Linked DNA regions of Homo sapiens: region 2 is linked to region 1. The links come from fine-mapping of genetic effects on gene expression. A gene starts in region 1. The other region holds a variant in brackets. All regions are shown on one strand. Distances are from middle to middle. Region 1 holds the start of TSPAN33 (tetraspanin 33). Region 2 has its middle 23 kb from the start of TSPAN33.

The links.
Region 2: its variant is fine-mapped to the expression of TSPAN33 in monocytes after Pam3CSK4 (Quach 2016, PIP 0.95).

Annotation. Positions count from the first base shown.
Region 1 is chr7:129,142,130-129,147,505 of GRCh38, reverse strand. It overlaps TSPAN33 (tetraspanin 33), which reads right to left and starts at 2,799. Exons shown (of 8, transcript NM_178562.5): 1 at 2,424-2,799. The coding sequence starts at 2,525. RefSeq lists a silencer at 2,677-2,886.
Region 2 is chr7:129,119,438-129,124,813 of GRCh38, reverse strand. No RefSeq gene overlaps it. Among named protein-coding and RNA genes, the nearest start is that of TSPAN33, 23 kb to the left of the region's middle. RefSeq lists enhancers at 1,690-1,959, 2,410-2,579. The variant AGGGCCC/C (reference allele first, on the strand shown) is at 2,061.

The DNA of each region.
Region 1 (5,376 bases):
TTTCTCTCCAGCTGCTCTTGTATGAATATACCTGTGCAGCACTGGGTTTGGGGGAGAAGGGACATTCAATAACACCTGAAAAGTACTGTCCCCTAGGAAGGGCAATCAGGACACAGGGAGATTCATCCTTAGATCCAGCTCTAGGTCTTGAAGAAAGAAAACAGTCCCCAAAATGATTCATTCATCCTTAAATAGTTCACTGAGGCAGAAATTGTTTCTCCTTTAGAGGAGAAAGATTAAGGTCAGAGAGACAGATACATTGGCTTAGGGTCACACAGTAAGTTGGTGCCAAAAAGATGCTGAGCCTCTTGTCTTTCAGTGTGCTATTTCTAGAGCCTCTGATTTTTTATGAGTCTACTGTAGGGCCAAGAAGGGGCTCTATTCTAATTTGGGGTGGTGCTAGCTTGGCCACCCACGTCTTCTGACCTTGAATGAAGCATTTTTACCAAGGTAAATGGGTCTGTGGAGCCAAACTCTCTCCTGGCTGAGATCTCTCAAAGTCGTTTGTCCGATAAAAGGGGGGTAGGGTGGAGGTAGGGGGTAGGGAAGCTCGAGAAAAAAAAAATGACCAGGAACACAAGTGTAACAGATGCACCCAGCTGTTGTCACTGGCGAGCACAGACAAGGGTGAGGTACCAATGGCTCCAAGGGAGACAGTCTCGGCAGATAAAGGAAGTCAGAGTGACGACCTAAAGTCCCTGAAATGCTAGTGCTGGCTCCGAGGATGTCACGTCACTGGCCTGGCACACTCAGTGAGCACAGAGACTTCACTGATACTTGCCCCTAAGTGGGGAGTCTCTTAGTACATCCCCCAGCACTGGTAGAGTGGTAAGGGATTTTCTTGTGTTTTTCCCTAACCTCCAGCTGAAGCAGAACCTAGACTATGGGAACTTGGGTTGACTGGTTAACTACTAATACTGCCCATACCCCAGCTATAGCAGCAGCCATCTGTGCTGAGGACTTCCCCCAGCGGCACTGTGGTTCAGTAGAAAGGTCACCAGACCAAGCCTGCTAACCAGCTGTTGGACCTTGGACAAAACATTTAACATCTCTGTGCTTTAGTTTTCTACATTTTATAGACATAAACACAGATGCTGGACAAGATGTCTTCTAAAATTTTTTTCCAGTTTTACAACTGAGCATTTGATAGGAGCACAAGTTTCATTTTCCCCAGGAGTAGGATGGCTGAGTGCGCTGTCATCACCACCCTATGGGATTTCTCTCATTTGTCCCAACAGGCCAGCACTTATGGGCTTTGTGTCTGCACCTCACCCCACGGGCCCTGTGAAACCTTTCCAGCAAATGGCTTAGATGTCTGTTCTGCTCCCTCCCCTAGGAAACATATTTTAGACTCAATTCTTCCCTCCTGCAAGTCTGAACTTTAGGTCTCCAGCTGAAGTGGGCAAGGATGGTGGGCTCCAGAAGCAGCAGCTCTGGTGTGGTAGGAGCCAGAAGAGGAGGTGAATGGGGGAAGGATGTCCCTATGTTCTCACACCCCAGGACCTCCAGGACTCTCTAGCCAGGAAACAGGGTCGAGCTGGCATTGCATGATCTGGTTCAGCTCAATTCTCAGCTTCAGCAGTCTTTCTGCCACCCCTGATCACACTGGGTTGGATTTGTGGGGGAGGGAGTCAAGGCCTGCAGACATGAACATACATGCTTAGGTCGGTCAAGTCAACAATGAACGGCAGAGTGGGATGGGAATCCAGGTGTCCGGAGTCCCAGCCCAATACTTTTTCCACCCCAAGCAGAAGATTCTGAAAGGACCCCTGGCCCTCCGGCCCAACACGGGGTCCTGTTTAAAGACACTGGTGATTGCCAGGCTCCAGGGGTGAAGTCTGGTCCTGAGAAGGGTGGCAGGGAGGGGACAAAGTTTGGGGCAGTGCTGGGATGGGAAAGACATCTGCACCTGGAGGCCATTCTTCCTAGACTTTGGGGGGGTGGAGGTGGGGGTAGATGAGGCCTGCAAAAGGAAGAGATGATGCCAGTAACCCATCCTCTCTGAGGTGGTGGAGAGAGAGGTTTGGGTTTTTCCTTCCTCTTCTTTCTTTGCCAGCCGGGCCTCCAGGCCCCCAGGCCTGAAAGTCAGCCGCCACCCCCGACCCCCATCATGAATGTGTCAGTGGGTCCGCCTTGGGCCAACAGGCTCCCTCAAACCCACATTTCTAGCCTAACACAGACCCTCCTCCGACGCCCCGAGAATACCCATCAGTCTTTACTGATTCCCTGGCATACCCTCCTCCCTACAACGCCCCCTGCAGACGCGGCGTCCCCGGGGTGTCCCTCCCCAGGATAAATTCCCCCAAAGTGCCGTCAGCCCAGAAAACTCGGCAGTGCGGCTCCCGCGCGTGGGGCACCCCGGGCCACCCTTCCACCCCGCGGGGGGACCCCGCCGCCCAGGTGCCCTCGACCCCGAGACTCACCCAGAAGAGCATGTTGAAGAAGAAGAGCAGGTATTTCACCAGCGGGCTGACGAAGGAGAACTCCTCCCCGGAGGCGGCCGGCGCCCGGGGTCTCCGCGCCATGGCCCCGCCGCCGCCACCGCCCCCGGGGGCCTATTTCCCAGCGGCTGCCGGCCGGCCTGTGTGCCCCGCGCCCGGGGGCATGAGCCGAGCCGCGCCGCGCAGGAGCCCGGCCGGCGGGGGAGCCTGCGCTGCGGCGGGAGGCGCCCGAGCCGGGGGGCCGGGAGCGGCGCGGGCCGGGGAACCGCGCCTGGAGCTGCTGGAGCCGCGGTGGGCAGCGCGAGCGGACGAGACTCACCCGCGGCCGCAGGACCAGCCCGGCCAGCCAGGCGCCCAGGAAACCCGGCCCGCCCCCGGCCGCTCATTGGCGCGACGGCTGGAGCCCGACTTCCCATTGGCTCGTGGCTGATGTCACTAAGTATCCAGCCATCCCTCTCCACCGAGAGTCGGGGGAGACACCTGTTCTGTGAGGGATAACTTGTTAAAGGGTCAGCGGTTCTGCCTCTCCCCTACCCCTAAGGGAAAGCATCCAGGCTGCAGCTGCTCAAAGGAACAAGAGTGAGGAGAAGGAATGCACAGTGCATCCCACACCCACGTCCTCCGCCCAGCTGCTGTGCACATATGCAAACACACATACATTAAAATCAACAAGTACGCACACCGTGTGTTGAGCAATGCGCCGAAAGCTCTGGGAACGCGGGAGAACAGAAACAATCCCTGGGGGATGACAATAAAATCAGGGAGACAAAACTAACCTACACATAACAATTAGACCAAGGGTAGATGCAATCTTGTTTAGTAACTATACATTTTAAATGCTTATTTCAGAAGCTCTACAACCCAACAGTGGAAATTTGGAAACATCACCGCCAATCCCGCCATCCTAATTCATTGCTGTCTCAATTCCCGCCCCCGCAGCCCCTCTTCCCTTGGTCTACTTGCAGACACCGTTTTTAACATGCTGATCCGGCACACACAGGTTGAGTGCAGCGTAGCTGGCGAATATATTATGCTGGCTACCCTAACTAATACAAGTTGAACCTCGGGGAGGGAATCTGATTCCACCATAATTAGCTGCGTGAAAGCTGCAAGCTACTTAATCTCTCGGAGCCTCAGTTTGTTTAATGTTAAATGGGAGAGTCCTGACCTAGATGGCGATTTGAGGATTAAATGAGATAATGCATGTAGCTCACTTAGCACATGGCTGGCACATGGAAGGCTCATCAAAGGCATTACAGTATTTCGTTTTAGCAGAATTAAGAATCCAGTGTGGAAATATGATAACCGCACAAATAATTATAATACGTTTGGTAGAAGGTTAGTGAAGATAGCGTGGCAAGTGAAATTAGGGGAGGATGGGATTTAGAATAGTAGAGACGGAGGGGAAACATAATCCAGGTGGATTAAAAAAAAAGGGGGTGAACCAAAGCCTGGAGGTGCAAAAGCACGCCATGTGTTTCGTGCAAAATAAGCAGACTGCTGTGGCTGGAGCACAGGGTATGCTTGGAATAGCAGTGGGACATAATGCTGACCGATGCCGTTACATGTGGAATTGTGTTAAAACTGCGGAAGTAATTGAATATCAGATTGGGGAGTTAGTGCTTAATTGACTTGGAAATAAGAGTTTTGGAGAAAAGGATGATGGAAAACCCATGGTTTTCAGTTGGAGTGGGAAAGAGGCTGGAGAGAGAAAGATTTGTTAGAAGCATGCTGCTCATCATCCAGATAATCAGAAATCAGGAACTGATTTAGGAGTAATAGACAGAATAATAGATGGTTAGGAGAGGATAGAAGGGAAGGCATTGGAAAGATAGAATCTCTAGGGCTAGGCTGTGGTGACAAGCAGGCATAACAGGAGCACCAAGAGTGGAGGTTAAAGAAGGCAGTCACAGCCAGGTTACTGGGAGATTACTGGCCCTTAACAGGTTAAGTGACACTGGAGATCAGTTTTAGTATAAAGCAGGTAGGGTGGGCAGAAGTCATTTTCCAAGAGGTTAATGAGTGAATAGGTAGGTGCCATTTTCAGATGTTAGTGCGGGGAGGATAGAGAAATAGACCAAGATGCTGAATGTTTCTATTAGATGATCTTCCAGAAATCAGTTTTATTTTTTTGAAACGGAGTCTCACTCTGTCGCCCAGGCTGGAGTGCAGTGGCCTGATCTCAGCTCACTGCAACCTCCGCCTCCCTGGTTCAAGCGATTCTCCTGCCTCAGTCTCCCAAGTAGCTGGGATTACAGGCGCCCGCCACCATGCCTGGCTAGTTTTTGTATTTTTAGTAGAGATGGGGTCTCACCATGCTGGCCAGGATGGTCTGAACTCCTGACCTTAGGTGATCCACCTGCATGGGCCTCCCAAAGTGCTGGGATTACAGGCATGAGCCACTGTGCCCAGCCAAGAGATCATTTTTAATTGAGACGGGAAGAAGAAGGAATATCACAGTGTCAAGGAAGGAATGGGTGGTGAAATGGAAGCTGTGAACGAAACTGTGGACATCTCTGTCTGGCTTTGAAGGTTATGGGAGCCTTAAGGGACTTCAGAGTGAAGGGAAAGTTCTCTGTTAGCATATAAGAGACCTAACATGTTCGTAGGAAACAAAACAAAACAAAACAAAACAAAACAGTCAAGAGGGATTAAGGTGGATAATGGCTGGAATGAGGTTTTGGAATTAACAGGTAGAGATGGGATTAGCCTTCAAAGTGATGACCACAATGTCCCTCATGTGGAAGTCACGGACGGCATCACAAAGTAGGAAGCCATGCAGCTATAGAACAAAGAATTAGGAAACTCTCTCTGTACTGAGTTGGAACGATCTCCAAGTTAACTCATTACGTTTAAAAAGCAAAATGAGGCCGGGGTGGCTCATGCCTGTAATCCCAGCACTTTGGGAGGCCGAGGCAGCCAGATCACGAGGTCA
Region 2 (5,376 bases), 23 kb after region 1:
AGGTTTGTTATTTGGGGCCCTGGAGTGCCTTGGAGATATCCTGTCTCTGGAATATCTGGAATTGCAACGGGAGTAAGAAGTTAGAAGAGCGGCTGTAGATGTGAAGAGGAGGAAAGGATCCAGGGGAATCGAAGTGAGGAGGTTGGCTTTTGTCTGTAGAATCAGGTCTGGTCAGAGAGGAAACTGGGCAACGCAATCATGATCTCAGGGGAAGCATCATGATTTGGTGGAGTTGAGACTGGGGCCGTGGACTGCAAACAAGGGGTTTGGGGATATTTCCTATCAGGAGCAGTCTCACATCCATATAGGGGTAGGCCACTGTGCACTTTTTATGTGAGAGGTTCCATAACGTTTCTCTTCCCTTACTTCTCACCCTCACCAACTTGTCTGAAATTCCCACCATTCTCTAATCCAATTCCCATTATGGTTAGGTTAAGGTGTGGAATCACTATTTAAAATTCAAATATAGGCTAGGTGCAGTGAGTGGCTCACGCCTGTAATCCCAGCACTTTGGGAGACTGAGGCAGGAGGATCACTTGAGGCCAGGAGTTCGAGACCAGCCTGGGCAACATGGCAAAACCCTGTCTCTACTAAAAATACAAAAACTAGCCAGCCGTGGTGGCTCACACCTGTAGTCCCAGCTACTCCGAATGCTGAAGCACAAGAATCGCTTGAATCCGGGAGGCGGAGGTTGCAGTGAGCCAAGATCGCACTACTGCACTCCAGCCTGGGTGACTGAGACACTGTCTCAAAAAAATAAAAATAAAAATAAAAATAAAATATTAAAAAGAAAATGCAGAAAATGCAAAGATTTCTAGGAGGGATACCCAGACCAATATCTGCACTTCAAATCTTAGAAGTTAAACATTTATCAAGACATGATTCTGTACACCCTCCATTCAAGCCACCAGAAATCTGAGACAGAATCTCATGTGTCTGAGACTCGACCACTCTGATTTTGAAGTGAAATTATTTCAAATGCTTAAATGGGTAGCACTGAGTGTTTGTCTGTTATTTTTCCAAGCCCAGCACCTATTCCCCGTTCTGGTACCAGCATGCTAGATTTCCTTTGGGATGCCACCCCACCTCCTGTCTCAGGCTCAGTGAGCATGGGAGAGATCTACCCTTCCACCTGGCAGGTGGAACGCCGGACTCTGTTCTGGCCAATCAGAGCCCAGGGATGGTTATGCGCTCTAACTTGGTCCAGTCAGAATGAAGCCTCTAATTTAGTTGGGGAGGAGGACCATTACTGAAAGGGATTCCCTCTCTCTTTTGCTGGGACCCCCTGGGATTACAGATGACCTGCAGCCACTGGGGGCTACCCCAGGGCTCCTGAGAGAGAAGGTAACACTGAGGAAAGGTAGAGCTGAGACAGGGTTAAACCAAGTCCCAGTGACATAGTTTGAGCCACAAGATCAGTGGTGCCTGAAACAAGCCCTAACCTTAGACTTTTCAGTTATGCGAATCAGTGAAATTGTGTGGTTGTTGTTTGTTGGTTTGGTGTTTTGTTTCATTTTGTCTAAGTCAGATAAAAATGGATTTTCAGTTATCTTGAAACTGAAAATCTGCTGACTGGCACGCCATCCCGCTGGCTTGTGTGCTGTGCACATTAACAAGACTCACCTTTTCTTAGGATTCATCCTATGTGCAAGATTACCAGGATGTAGCCAGATTCAGGATGCCTGTTTTTATAGCTTAGCTACAGAGTTTTTCTTCACCTCTAGCAATTGCCTATGCCCTTTCAGCGGCCTCAGCAGGGAGAAGCACAGTGGGACTCCTTGAAAGGCAGATCCAGAAGGCTGGTTATGTGGACAGTTCACCACAGTTAACTGGGGTAACCACAGTTGGCCTGGGCAGTCCAGAAGCAGATGACCCACCCCCATACTGTGGGCAGCTCTTCCTGCAGTGCTTAACTCCAGAAAAAAACCCTCCACCAGTTCCTTACTAAGGTGGTAAACAACCCTAAGAAATCTGGCTCTCTAAGCTTGGGACAGCCAAGAAATGAGTCAGCCTTCTGGAGAAACCCCCCTTGCCACAGCCTGTGCTTCCCCATTTCTGCC[AGGGCCC/C]CAGCCCCAGCCCCAGCCCCCATGTCAGTAAAGCCTATGCATTTCTTTCAAGAGCATGACAAAACCTCATATCTGAAAAGCACTGAAGTGCTGTACCTCTTTCAAAGTACTTGTGCATTCATTATCTCATTAGGATACCAGATTTGCTATTTTTTTCTTCAGATTCTTTTTTTTTTTTTTTTAACTCAAATCCAGCAGAGTTTTTTCATGTGGTTCTCAATGAGACTTGAGAAGAGAAAATCAGAATTCAATCCAAAAGCACAGCTTTTCTAGAGACATAAATATAATCCTCCTCTCTCATGCCAAAAATAACAAGGGGGCAGAGGTTAGATTCTAGAGGAAAGAACATTGAGTGTGAACTGAAACCTTTCTAGTTACAGATCTACCACTAAGTAGCTGTGTGACCTGGACAAGCCCCTTAATCTCTCTGCACTTCAGTTTCTTCCTTTGTAAAATGGCAGCATTGAGGCTTCCTGGGAACCCTGGCCTTGATATTTTCTAAGCATCTTTGAAGCTCTGAGGTTTTATGGCTCGGTGAATTGTAGAATCTGAGGAGACTGATTTATAAGCAAGTTGGCACGTTTTTTAAGCCCAGTCATTCCTTTGGTGTGTGCAAGGGAGAGCCCCTGCTCAGAGTGTCAGGAGCCATAGCACATTGGGATGTAGACTGAGCATGGCCCACTTCCCAGAGACCCCAAGGCCTGCCTTAGGCCCACCTCTGATGGTGGTGGTTGGTTGGTGGTGGTTAGTTGGTTAAATGAAGGGTGAGATCCTGACCACTCACTAAATGCTGAACTCTTGATAGATTAGGAGGAAGCTCTGCTATCTGTGGGATGAGGCACAGCAGATGATGTGGTTTGGCTGTGTTCCCACCCAAATCTCATCTTGAATTCCCACATGTTGTGGGAGGGACTGGGTGGGAGATAATTGAATCATGAGGGCAGGTCTTTCCCATGCTGTTCTCATGATAGTGAATAAGTCTCATGAGATCTGATGGTTTTAAAAATAGGAGTTTCCCTGCACAAGCCCTCTCTGTGCCTGCTGCCATCCATGTAAGATGTGACTTGCTCCTCCTTGCCTTCCGCCATGATTGTGAGGCTTCCCAAGCCATGTGGAACTGTAAGTCCATTAAAGCTCTTTCTTTTGTAAATTAGCCAGTCTCGGGTATGTCTTTATCAGCAGTGTGAAAACAGACTAATACAGCAGATGTCAGATTGGTTCTTGGAATGGAAGGTAAGCGAACTCTAGTGTTTACTGAAGACAGGGCCTATGTAGGGATTGGCAGGGTAGGGTGGTAGGCCCTATTTAGCAGTACAGAGACTGACCCAAGGCACTTTTCTTGCTGAGTTCAACCTTCTTTTGCAACCCTTTCTTCTGGCAAGTGCTTTCTGCCCAGTGGGGAGGTGAAAGGGTCCCTCACCTTCATGAACCCCTTCTGTGTGAATATACCCTCCAATAAATCCTGGCTCTTCTTTCCATTTCCAATGACTACTTTGAGAAATTAGGATGTCAGTGGTTCATCTTGTCTCATGCAAGCCTGAATTATGTATTCTTTAAGAACAGTGACTATGATCCATCAGACTGTCTTCCACCTGTCATTCAGCATGGCTTTGGCTCTGAACTCTCCACCAACCTTTTTCCTTCCCTGCAACACACACATTCAAAACTAAAATAACCCATTACCACCACCACTAACAACCCCCCCCCCCAACCATCCCATTATAGATCATATCCTCCCAGGAAGTTTTTCTTTGTTCCTAAATTAATTCATACCAATGTGGTGATGGCCACTCAGGCTTGTTACTTGTCTACCTGCCCTACCACGACTCTAAATATGTATTTCCATTTTAACAGGAGATGTTGGATCCAATTTGTCAAAAACTATCTCATTAAAGGAACAAACTTGTTTCAGCATCAGACTTATGATGTGATATTTTTGTCTTAATCCCTCAAAGTACTGAGAGAAGGTTGGGTACTAGTGAAGTCAGAGCTATTAGGGGGCACCCTGGCTAATCAGGCCTTCCTCTGGGCCAGCAGTGCCATCCTATTTATACCTACAGTTTTAGCATTCAGAACAAAATCTTACTACACAAAGAAATTTATAGATTTAATGCAATTCCTATCAAAATACCAACGACATTCTTCATAGAAATAGAAAAAAAATCTTAAAATGTATATGGAACCACAAAAGACCCTAAATAGTCAAAGCAATCTTGAGCAAAAAGAAAGCTGGAGGCATCACACTACCAGACTTTAAAATATCCTACAAAGCTGTAGTAAGCAAAACAGCATGGCGCTGGCATAAAAACAAACACATAGAACACTGGAACAATAGAGAACCCAGAAATTAATCCATGTATCTATAACCAACTGTTTTTTGACAAAGGTGCCAAGAACCCTTATTGATAGTCTCTTCAATAAATGGTTGAGGCAAAACTGGATATTCATATGCAAAAGCATGAAACTAGATTCCTGACTTTCATCCTATACAAAAATCAACTCAAAGTGGATCAAAGACCTAAATGTAAGACCCAACCCTATAAAACTACTAGAAGAAAACATGGGGAAATGCTTCAGGACATGGGTCTGGGAAAAGATTTTATAAGACTTCAAAAGCATAGGCAACAAAAGTAACAATAAACAAATGGGATTATATCAAACTAAAAAGCTTCTACACAGCAAAGGAAATAATCAATAGAGTGAAAAGACAATCAACAGAATGAGAGAAAATATTTGTAAACTATTCATCCAACAAGGGATTATTATCTAGAACATACAAGGAATTCAAACACTTCAATAGCAAAAAAGCAAATAATTCAATTTAAAAAATGGGCAAATGGGCCAGGCATGGTGGCTCACACCTGTAATCCCAGCACTTTGGGAGGCCAAGGCAGGCAGATCATTTGAGGTCAGGAGGGTGGATCACTTGAGGTCAGGAGTTGGAGACCAGCCTGGCCAACATGGTGAAACCCCCTCTCTACTAAAAATATAAAAAATTATCCGGGTGTGGTGGTGGCACATGGGTGTAATCTCAGCTACTCGGGAGGCTGAGGCAGGAGAATGGCTTCAACCTGGGAGGCAGAGGTTGTAGTGAGCTGTGATCGTGCCACTGTACTCCAGCCTGGGTGACAGAGCAAGCCTGTCTCAAAAAAAATAAAAATAAATAAAATAAATAAATAAAAGGGCAAATGATCTGAACAGATATTTCTCAAAAGAAGACATACAAATGGATGGTCAACAAATATATAAAATAATGCTCAATATTACTAATCATCAGGGAAACACAAATCAAAACCATCAAGAAGTATCA